Regions from separate parts of the Homo sapiens genome. Here region 2 is linked to region 1. The links come from fine-mapping of genetic effects on gene expression. A gene starts in region 1. The other region holds a variant in brackets. All regions are shown on one strand. Distances are from middle to middle.

The links. PIP is the estimated chance that this variant, and not a neighbour inherited with it, causes the effect.
Region 2: its variant is fine-mapped to the expression of GZMH in whole blood (TOPMed, PIP 0.93).

The regions. Positions count from the first base shown.
Region 1 is chr14:24,606,522-24,611,903 of GRCh38, reverse strand. It overlaps GZMH (granzyme H), which reads left to right and starts at 2,219. Exons shown (of 5, transcript NM_033423.5): 1 at 2,219-2,345; 2 at 3,492-3,639; 3 at 4,157-4,292; 4 at 4,498-4,755; 5 at 5,158-5,382. The coding sequence starts at 2,291. The coding sequence ends at 5,301.
Region 2 is chr14:24,676,651-24,682,032 of GRCh38, reverse strand. No RefSeq gene overlaps it. Among named protein-coding and RNA genes, the nearest start is that of GZMB, 45 kb to the right of the region's middle. RefSeq lists a silencer at 2,837-3,016. The variant T/G (reference allele first, on the strand shown) is at 2,382.

The DNA.
Region 1 (5,382 bases):
GATAATAGAATCTGAACAGCAGGACTTGAGTTCCAGACCTTTCCACTGAAATAGTCTACCCAAATGATAAGGAACTAGAAAGGTAATTCTGGTAATATGATAAAACAGAGTTCTATATCACCTCCAAAAGATCACACTAGCTCCCCAGCAATGGATCCAAACCAAGAAGAAATCTCTGAATTGCCAGATAAACAATCCAGAAGATCATTAAGCTACTCAAGGAGATACCAGAGAAAGGTGAAAAAACAACTTTAAAAATTAAAAAATATATATATACATAAATATAGGATATGGGTGAAAAATTCCCCAGAGAAATAGATATCATAAAGAAAAAATAATCACAACTTCTGGAAATGAAAGCCATGCTTAGAGAAATACAAAATCCACTGGAAAGTTTCAACACTAGACTAGAACAAGCGGAAGAAAAAACTTCAGAGCGCAAAGACAATGCTTTCAAATTAACCCAATCAAACAAAGACTAAGAAAAAATAATTTTTAAAAAATGAACAAAGCCTCCAAGAAATGTGGGATTATGTTAAACAGTCAAACCTAAGAATAATTGGTGTTCCTGAGGAAGAAGAGAAATCTAAAAGCTTGAAAACCTTATTTGAGGAAATAATTGAAGAAAACTCCCCTGTCCTTGCTAGATACCTAGACATCCAAATACAAGAAGCTCAAAGAACACCTGGAAAATTCATCACAAAAAAGTCTATCACCTAAAGTCCTATCCCAGTTCTGTTAAAGTAATAGCAGGAATAGCACCTTATAAATACCTAGAAAAATAGTAGAAGGAAACATGCTTAAGCATTAATAATGATCTCCGGTGGTAGAATTTTTGGTAAGTTTAATTTTATCATTTACATGTTCCTACTTAACTATACATATATATTTATATATATTCATATACATAAATATACAAACATATGTATATATACACATTTTTGTTTATGGACAGCCTATGACTGTGAGCCAAGGGACATCAGAGACATGGCTCTCTGGAAACTGAGAGAATACTTAGTGGACAGTTTTTTGTTTGTTTGTTTGTTTGTTTTTGAGATGGAGTCTCGCTCTGTCACCCAGGCTGGAGTGCAGTGGCGCGATCTCAGCTCACTGCAAGCTCCACCTGGGTTGACGCCATTCTCCTGCCTCCGCCTCCCAAGTAGCTGGAACTACAGGAGCCCGCCACCACGCCCGGCTAATTTTTTGTATTTTTAGTAGAGATGGGGTTTCACCATGTTAACCAGGATGGTCTCGATCTCCTGACCTCGTGATCCACCCGTCTTGGCCTCCCAAAGTGCTAGGATTACAGGCATGAGCCACCGCGCCCGGCCTTAGTGAACAATTATTATCAGGATGATCAGCATCCATTTTTCCATCACCTGGCAACAACAACTAGCATTTCTCAAGGGAAATCCCCTCCTCATTCATAAGCACCATAGATGGAGTGGAACAGTCCCCACCTCAGCTTAAGGAGGGCTAAATAACCAAAGCATAAAGCAATCAGTCCACTACACTTCAGTGGACCCAATGATGACTCATTTTGGTTCAATAAATATCAAGTCCAGAACTTTTGTGCAGAACTGTGGAATAAAAAAAGTTATCTTTGTCACAGAATATTTATATTTAAAGAGGGGATTCTAAATATCCCAAAAATATGAATCTGAGATAGTGGTAAGATAGGAATGGGTTGCCATTTGCAGTATTTGTTGGGTGTGTGCAACTCTGCATACTGCTAAGGCAAGTCCAGCCTCCGTCTCACACCAACAGGCAGATTTCCCCACCACGGCCCTTACCATCTTGTGCTCTAACCCCAGATTTTCAGTCTACTCTTGCTAACCATCAATTCTTCAAGGGCAAGAGCCATGTCTCTCATATCCCTGGATCTGGCTTGCTAAATAATTATTCATGATTTTATCTGAGTAGAAAAAGAGCCAAGAACTGAGAAAAGGAGACATTCTTGGTTCTCAGTCACTGAGGAGCTTCTGCAGTACCAGCCTTTCTGCTAGCTGCAGCCACAGCTTCAACAGCTCCACCTCCTTGTTCTTTATTCTTGCTTTCACCTTGTTACTCAGCAGCAGGGGTGTAAATGTGACAGTGCCATGTCAACTTAAACCAAACCAGATAATTTTAATAAACCACCTTCTATAATGACACCCATCAAAACCAGAAGGGGACAAGTCTAGGAGGTCTCTGAGTTTACTGTACCCATCCCTCCTTCATCTCCCTCCAGCATTTGTTTCTGGAAGGAGTCAACACCAACAGCTCTGACCTGGGCAGCCTTCCTGAGAAAATGCAGCCATTCCTCCTCCTGTTGGCCTTTCTTCTGACCCCTGGGGCTGGGACAGGTAAGTGACTATCCCTATTCCAGAGGCCTGAACCCATCTTATAAGATACCCTGTACCCATGAGCACTGGTCAGGAATTTTCCTCAATCTGAGCCCACCTCCCATTCCACACCCAGACTTATAAATCTGAGGCTAGATAGACACTCAGCAAAGATCGAAAAATGAAGGGTGTTCCCTAAAAGGTTTAATGGGTGTTAGCCTCTCCCTAGACCTCTCCTTTATGACCTGGAGTGTGGATTGTTCTTAGAAAGGCATTTGGTAGGGAATGTGAAGCTAAAAAAGATAAGTAATTATTACTCTACACTCCAACCCAGGAAAGAGGAGCTCAGACACCAAGTTGCAGTCATAGGAGTTGTTACTGGACTCAGCTTAAGAACCACTTATTCAGTGCCCCCACCCAGTCACCCCTGCCAGGAGGGAAGCCCATGGTGCAACTGATCTCAGAGATGGCAAGATGACTGTGTCCATAGCTCTCCCATTACCTTGGCTCCACCTGGGCTTTGCGATTCATTTTTAGTTGATTTCTCCACTTCCTTCTGCCTTTGCAGGCCCTCAGCTACTCCACTGACCTGGTGATAACCCCCTCTAACATCCCTGAGGTCCTGAATCCCACCAGCACTACCCCCACTAAACCTCAGCCAAAGGCTAATTGGAGGCTATTCATTTATGCACCAAACAACACTTACTGAGAACCTAGAATGTGTTCAGCCCTGGCACATGAGAATTTTAGAAAATCCAACTCCAGAAGCTCATGGGTAGATCATTAGAAAATGGCACCAATCAGGAGGACAGCAGAGGCTCAGAGGAATCAGAGAGACTCACTAAAAAGGAGGAGCCTGGGAAGTCCTGTCCAGGATCCTCTGGGGCTCTACCACTGTGAAAATAGATCTTTCTTCCTCCATGTGTGTTTCTGCAGTAGGATGCAGAAGTCAAGCACTGTCCATTCTTTCTGAGAGAAGGTTCTGAGACTTAAAGTTCAGAAAAGCTTGCTCTGCCTGCAAGGAGTACTGCCTGCAGAGCTCAGGAGGACCCCTCCCTCACTGTCTGCAGCACACAAAACACTTCACCCTCAATCACTGTCGTCCTAAGCCTTCTCTCCTGACTGCAGCCATCCCCAGCTACTTTATCTTCCAGTCTTTCCTTTCAGAGGAGATCATCGGGGGCCATGAGGCCAAGCCCCACTCCCGCCCCTACATGGCCTTTGTTCAGTTTCTGCAAGAGAAGAGTCGGAAGAGGTGTGGCGGCATCCTAGTGAGAAAGGACTTTGTGCTGACAGCTGCTCACTGCCAGGGAAGGTAAGGAGCAGCACCAGCTCACCTCCTGAGTTCCCCCTACAGGGACCCTTGTTTTCTCCTGGGGACTGCAGCCCAGGGGAGCTTCCAGAGTTCCTGGTAACACAAGCCCATGAAAGCTCATCGGAGCAGCCACCTGGGAATAGGACTAAGATGATGAAAGGCTGAGAAATAGGACAGGGTCAGAGGGTCAGAGGGTCAGAGGTCAGAGCAAGTGGCATGGTTTCACACACTGGCCCAATAAGGCAGTAGTAAAGGTTGAATCCATGCATTAAGGATCAAAATGCAAACTCGAGCAATTTCATGATATTTCCTGAAGGCAAGAGAGAGCCCCCAGAAGCCCTACTCTTCATGTCTTTGTGAAGTAGAGGGCACAGTCACTCAGCCCTGGAGCCCTCCTGTCCCTTCAACTTCCCCTCAGCTGCAGCCCTACCCTGCCACAGCTGTCATCTGCTCTTCACTGCTCCTGGGCTCTATCCCCTGTGACTCCACCCCCATCCTCACTCTGCTCTCTGTGCAGCTCCATAAATGTCACCTTGGGGGCCCACAATATCAAGGAACAGGAGCGGACCCAGCAGTTTATCCCTGTGAAAAGACCCATCCCCCATCCAGCCTATAATCCTAAGAACTTCTCCAACGACATCATGCTACTGCAGGTGAGGCACACTCCTGCCACTCTTGCTCTTCTTGGTCCAGTTGGTTCCACTCCCACTGGGATGCCGGCCCTTTCCTCCTTTCCATCCTGACCTCTTGGTCAGTTCCTGTGCCTTAGAGGAGAGGGAAGATTGTGCAGCCCCATCACTGTGTCGGGGCCCAGAAGGCCATTGCCTGACCTGGACTTTCTTGCTTCTTCCCCACCAGCTGGAGAGAAAGGCCAAGTGGACCACAGCTGTGCGGCCTCTCAGGCTACCTAGCAGCAAGGCCCAGGTGAAGCCAGGGCAGCTGTGCAGTGTGGCTGGCTGGGGTTATGTCTCAATGAGCACTTTAGCAACCACACTGCAGGAAGTGTTGCTGACAGTGCAGAAGGACTGCCAGTGTGAACGTCTCTTCCATGGCAATTACAGCAGAGCCACTGAGATTTGTGTGGGGGATCCAAAGAAGACACAGACCGGTTTCAAGGTTGGGTTTCCAGCCTCTACCCAGAAAGACCACAGGGAGAGAGGAACTTGAGGGAGTTCTGGGGTATGACAGTGGCCAGATCTTTATGCTCTCAGCCCAGAGCTTGGGCAGCCTGTGTCCCCCTGGAATCTAGTCTTTAGTCCACTCCTTGGGTGGACTGGGGTGGCTGGAGGGGAAGGATCTGTCATCCGACAGTCACTTATCACCAAAGTGTCCGTGAGAATTGCAGAGAAAGGCTTGGTCTGGGGAGAGCCAGAAAGCACAGCCAGGGCCATGCTGGAGACCCAGGACTGAGGGAGGTGAGTGACAAGGCCTGCCTGGCACTGATGTCACACAAAATCCATAACAGAGACCACCCATCCCAGGGAACACTAGCTCAGTCTTTCCTCTCTCTGTTCACAGGGGGACTCCGGGGGGCCCCTCGTGTGTAAGGACGTAGCCCAAGGTATTCTCTCCTATGGAAACAAAAAAGGGACACCTCCAGGAGTCTACATCAAGGTCTCACACTTCCTGCCCTGGATAAAGAGAACAATGAAGCGCCTCTAACAGCAGGCATGAGACTAACCTTCCTCTGGGCCTGACCATCTCTGGGACAGAGGCAAGAATCCCCAAGGGGTGGGCAGTCGG
Region 2 (5,382 bases), 70 kb before region 1:
CTAGCAGTAAAGCTGGTTCATGCAAAGCTCAGTCTCCCCTGGGGGCCCTTGCATGTCCATCATACACAGGTTATTTACTATAAAACCTCTAGAAAAATCCCTTATGAGGTCTGTTCCTTCCTTCCTAGGATATTCAAATGGACATTCTCTTTCCAAACAGCCCATAACTATCAAATCACTTGATTTTTAGTGCAAAGAAAGAACAATTGCACCAGAATCCGGTGACCATGCTTTTTGGGTAGCTCACAGAGAATTTCATAATTCAGAATTAATTAGGCAGTGAGCAAGAACAAGAGGCATATTTTGGTGTATTAATTCATGCCAAGTTCAAACTCATTCCATCTCTGTTGCCCGGTGTGAATAATTATGCCATTAATCCCAGGCAGGAGGAGAGCTATTGTGACTACAACACATTTCTAAAGCAAATAAAGAAAAATGTCACTTCTCCCTTTCAACTAATGCTCTGAATACAGCTACATAATAATAATAGTCATTTATTTATAGGGCATAAATTCCCTAGGGCTCAATAAGCCACAGGATAAGCAAAATGCCAGTTAAAGAGAAAAAAAACAGAACTTTTCCAGTTATTAATAATTCTGAAACAAAGCACTTGTTGGGGAGAATGACCAAGAGGAGAAACTGAAAATTTAAGGAGAGCTTGGAAAAGGGCTCAAAGAAAGAGACAGTTGTGTGGCTTTTTCATTTTCTTCTCCCCTCCTGTTACATACTGCTCCCACTGTGACTCAGAGGGCCAGCTGTCTGGGGAAGAAAAATTTGACACATTTTTTAGGTTGGTGCAAAAGTAATGGCAAAAACCACAATAACTTTTGCACCAACCTAATAATCAGCCCTGAATGTCACCCTGATGCTACACACCCTTTGCTGTGAAAGCAAAATAGGTCGACCTGCCCCCTTCCCCATTTCTGAATTCCTTTCCAACTCACAGATGGCTTATTGAGCATAGAAGTATTGGAGGATCAGTGTGGTTTCCCATCCAGCCTCTCTTATGAGGGTCAGAAATGCATGGGGAGTAGCAGTCAAGAGGGTGCCCTATGTGCGTCATTTCCAGCTTCACAATGTTGAAGAGGAGATTGGGGATAGACAGAGGAGTGGCACTATGCAGAAGCAGTTCTACATTTTTCTACATTTCCTCTGAGACAGAAGGAATAGGGTCGAGGCCCACCAGGCAGGAGCCCTGAGTGCCAGAGGTCACAGAAGCAGTGGGGATCAGTCCACACTGCCCTGACACTGGCCCTTCTGCAGAGAGGTGGTGGCTGCTCTGGGTTCACACGTAGCCCTGCCCATTCCGCCAGTCAGAGCTGGCAAGAGATCCTTTAGCCACAAAGGCAGAGTGGCTGAGTTAGGAGATGGGGCAGGCCCTTCTCCTCAGTGGCTCCCACACCTAGCAGTGTCCAGAACACAATTCAGTGTTGCATGAACGAAATGAAGTGCTCTCAGTCTGCCTCTCATTCTTTCTTTATTTCACTTGGGGAAGTCACTTGACTCATTGAGTTTCAGTTTTCCTAGGTATAAAATGCTAACGATATTATATTATGAAGATGAACTATTGGAATTGCTATTTTTGTGGCCCAGAATTTTTAGAATGTCAACAATTTCACAAGGTTCAAACTAATAATTTATTTATTCCTTCATCCATCAATGAATGGCCACTATATGCTTAAAGCTGAGGATTCAGCAAGGAACAAAACAAATGATCTGGCCATGAATCTGACATCTTAGTTACATCTTAGTCAGGGGAGGGCAGAGTATGAACACACAGAGACAGGGAATCTTCTCTCAGGGGTAAATGCTGAAAGAAAAATACATCAGGATATGGGACCAGAGAGTGTGGAGGTGGCTACCCGTGACAGGGTGGCTAAGAGAGTCTTTTCTGAGGGGTTGGCATTCGAGTAGAGACCTGAAGAAAGCAAAGGAGAAAATAAAGATCTGGGAATAGAGCATTTCAGAAAGGACATTCCTGCAGGTGGAAAGGAGTGAGGGGTGGGAAGAGTGGAGGAGGGCAAGGTCAGAGAGTAGGCCATGGGAAAGACTTTGCAGTTTAATTCTAAATGAGACAGGAAGTCATTGGAGGGTTCTGAACACAGATGTGATACATTTTTCTAAGATCGCTGTGGTTGTTTAAGTGAAGCAAGTGAGGGCAAGGGGAGGGGAGAACGACGCAGACCACTTAGAATGTTACTGCTGTCATCAAAAGAAAGATAATGAGGACTTGGACTAAGATGGTAGCGGTGTCCGTGCCAAGAAGTGGTTATATTTGGAATATATTTTGAAAGTGGAGCTAACAGGAATGACCAGTGAACTGGCTGCAAGGTGCGGGAAAGAGAAAGGTCAAGAATGACTCCTAGGCTTTGGGCCTATGG[T/G]AATAAGTGGCTGGCGGTGCCAAGGGGGAATGGGGTGGAGCAGGGTCGGGAGAGGAGGAATCTAGAGTTCTGCTTTGCACACAATTGCATTTGTTTTGTCTGTCGGTACATGTGGAGAGTTGAGCGGGCCATCTGGAGCTTCATGGAAATGTCAGGGCTAGAGATAGCTCCTTCCAGCTATTTCGGGGCTAAACTTAGATCAAACACATGCACACTCTTGGGGATCTGTAAAGGACAGGACTGTATGAACACAAGGAATAAGTGACTAGATGCTTTCCCTGGGTTGCTATGTCAAATATGCTTATTAATATTTTAGAAACCAAACCTTTCTTCCCATATTCTAATTGATCGTCTATTCAACAAGTTTTACAATATAAATTTTAAGAATGTGCATTTTTCTAGGAACTCGGTAAAATTACGATTATTTGAAAATAAAATAATGTCTTTTACTAATAGTTTTACTTTCCCTGAATTGCTCCCTCACGTGGCGGGTAAAAGAATCTGCTCTGGACTCCCCAGTCTAGACAGTAAAAGAACTCAGTCTGGACACTAGAGGGCGCAATGCAGACAGTCAGAGCAGCCGCAGGAACTGAAAGGCGGCAATTCAGGAGTTCGCAGATCACTCCCTCTCCTGCTGTGTAAATCAGGGGTCCCGGCATTATGAGTCAAGGAGGGCAGCCCCCAGGCCACCAACGTGTGACCATTTTGATCAGGGGGATAATAGGGCCAGGCAGGGTTTTTCCAAAGGGAGCCCCTGGCAAATTTAAGGCACATCAGAGGAGAAAAAAGAAGTTAAGGAGAGAGGACACGTCAAGGAGAAAGAGAAAGAAAAATAAAGTAAGCAAAAATGAGGGAAACCAAGAAGTGCCTATTATAGAAGAATGGGAGAATTCCAGAAAGTCAGGGACAGAAAGGGCCTCAGAGACTTTTTATTTTTTTCTTTAAACTGGGTCTCGCTGTGACACCCGGGCTGGAGTGCAGTGGCGTGATCACAGCTCACCCCGACCACCCTGGGAGGATCAAGCGATCCTCCCGCCTCAGCCCCCCGAGTAGCTGGGATTACAGGTGCACAACATCACGCCTAATTTTTGTATTTTTTGTAGAGAAGGAGTTTCACCATATTTCCCAGGCTGGTCTGGAGCTCCTGGGCTCAAGAAATAAACCTGCCTTGGCCTCCCAAAGTGCTGGGATTACAGGTGTGAGCCACCACGTCCTGCCCAAAGACCATTTTTATTGAACTTTCTGTTTCCCAGATAAAAGGCTGAGGTGCTTCCTGGAGTTAAGTTTGGAGGCCTCCCAGGGTTGCTGTGCTCTCAGTCAGTGGTCTTCATTTCCCTACCATGTCATCTTCACAAAGTGTATGAACCTTACCAGGTGTCTCCTAGATGTCACATCATTCTCAACAAGCCTTAATGTGAGCACCCACTTACTTCACATATTTATTTTGCTGAGTCCCAAATGAACTGTCAAGTACGAATGTGGAATGCTGCTATGGCATAAGTATGATGATACAACTTGTACTGACATGCTAGATACAATAAATCTGCATTTAAGATGTAATTACAATAACTGGTTTTGTGGCTACAACTTTAAAAGGGCTGTGGGGATGACATTCAATTTCCCAGCATTCTTAAAACATTAAAAAAGTTTTGCATGCCTGCAGCATGCAAAATTATAGATGAAGAATCAAAGTTTTGGTATCACAGATATGGGTTTAAATCCTGGCTTTCAGTGGTTGCTAGCCCATGATTTGGAGCAATATTTCTAAGACCTCTTGCCTTCTCATCTATAAAATGAAAATAATAATAGTACTATGTCAGAGGATTGTTGTGAGGGTTAAATAAGATTGTTGGTAAAACTTCTAGTTCATTGTATCCTCTCAATAAGCAATTTGTAATGTTCACGTCAGAGAAAAACTGATATCCTTAAACAATAAAAGATTCTGAAAACAAATAGGGAAATGGACACAGGATATGAATAAATGATTCACAAAAGGAGATAAATACATGTGAATTAAAGTTTACAAGTAGTCAAAGGATGCAAAGTAAAGCAACAAGTGGAAACATATTTCTCCTCCTCCTTGGTTTCTTATTTCAGTTAAAAGCAGGCTCACTCAATCAGTTGTCTAAGCCAAACACCTGAAAATTAAAATCAACTACTTCCTCAAACACGGGACAATTTGAGCATCAAAATAAATAATAGCATTATAACCTATTGAATAAAGTAAGAATTCCAAAGTCCACACTGATATAAATAAATGAATGTATAAACAGTAAGTAGGAGAGAAGGGAAGGCTTTTCTTTACAGAAGAAAGTCAGATAATAATAAATGTAGAAAGAATGACAAAATCAGAAAATAATTTGTCAGTCATCCTAATAATAATTCTTTTAGGCAAGACGATTGCAACTAGTAGGAGAACATTTAAGGAGTATCTCCCCACAAGATACTTAATTGATTACAAAAGGTAAATTGGTAAATGTACTAACTTACTGGAGAAACCAAGCAGGTTTAATTTTAACCAGTTGATGGAATGTGACACTTCCAATAATGAAACTCGTTGACAGCAGAGCCTCCTGATGTGATGCAAAAACTCAGCATTGCTTCTGTGAGATCCCTGCCAAAAGTCCATAATCTGCATGTGATCATGTGGAACATCAGACAAACCCAAACTGAGGACCATCTACAAAACAACTGCCTGTCCTCTTAAAAACTGTCAAAGCCATGAAATACATAGAAAGACTCAGAAACTGCTCCAGATTAAAGGAAACTAAAGAAAGAAAGACAACAAAGTGCTATGCATGATCTCGAATTTTCTATTGCTATAAGGGACATTATTAGAAAAATTGGAAAAATATGAAAAAATTCTGTAGATTAAATAATAGCACATAGCATTATTAACTTTGGATTTTAATAGTGGTCAAGGTTTAAAAGAGAATTTCTTGCTTTTGGAAAAACACACTGAAGAATTTAGTTGTAGAAAGGCAATATACCTGCAAATTAC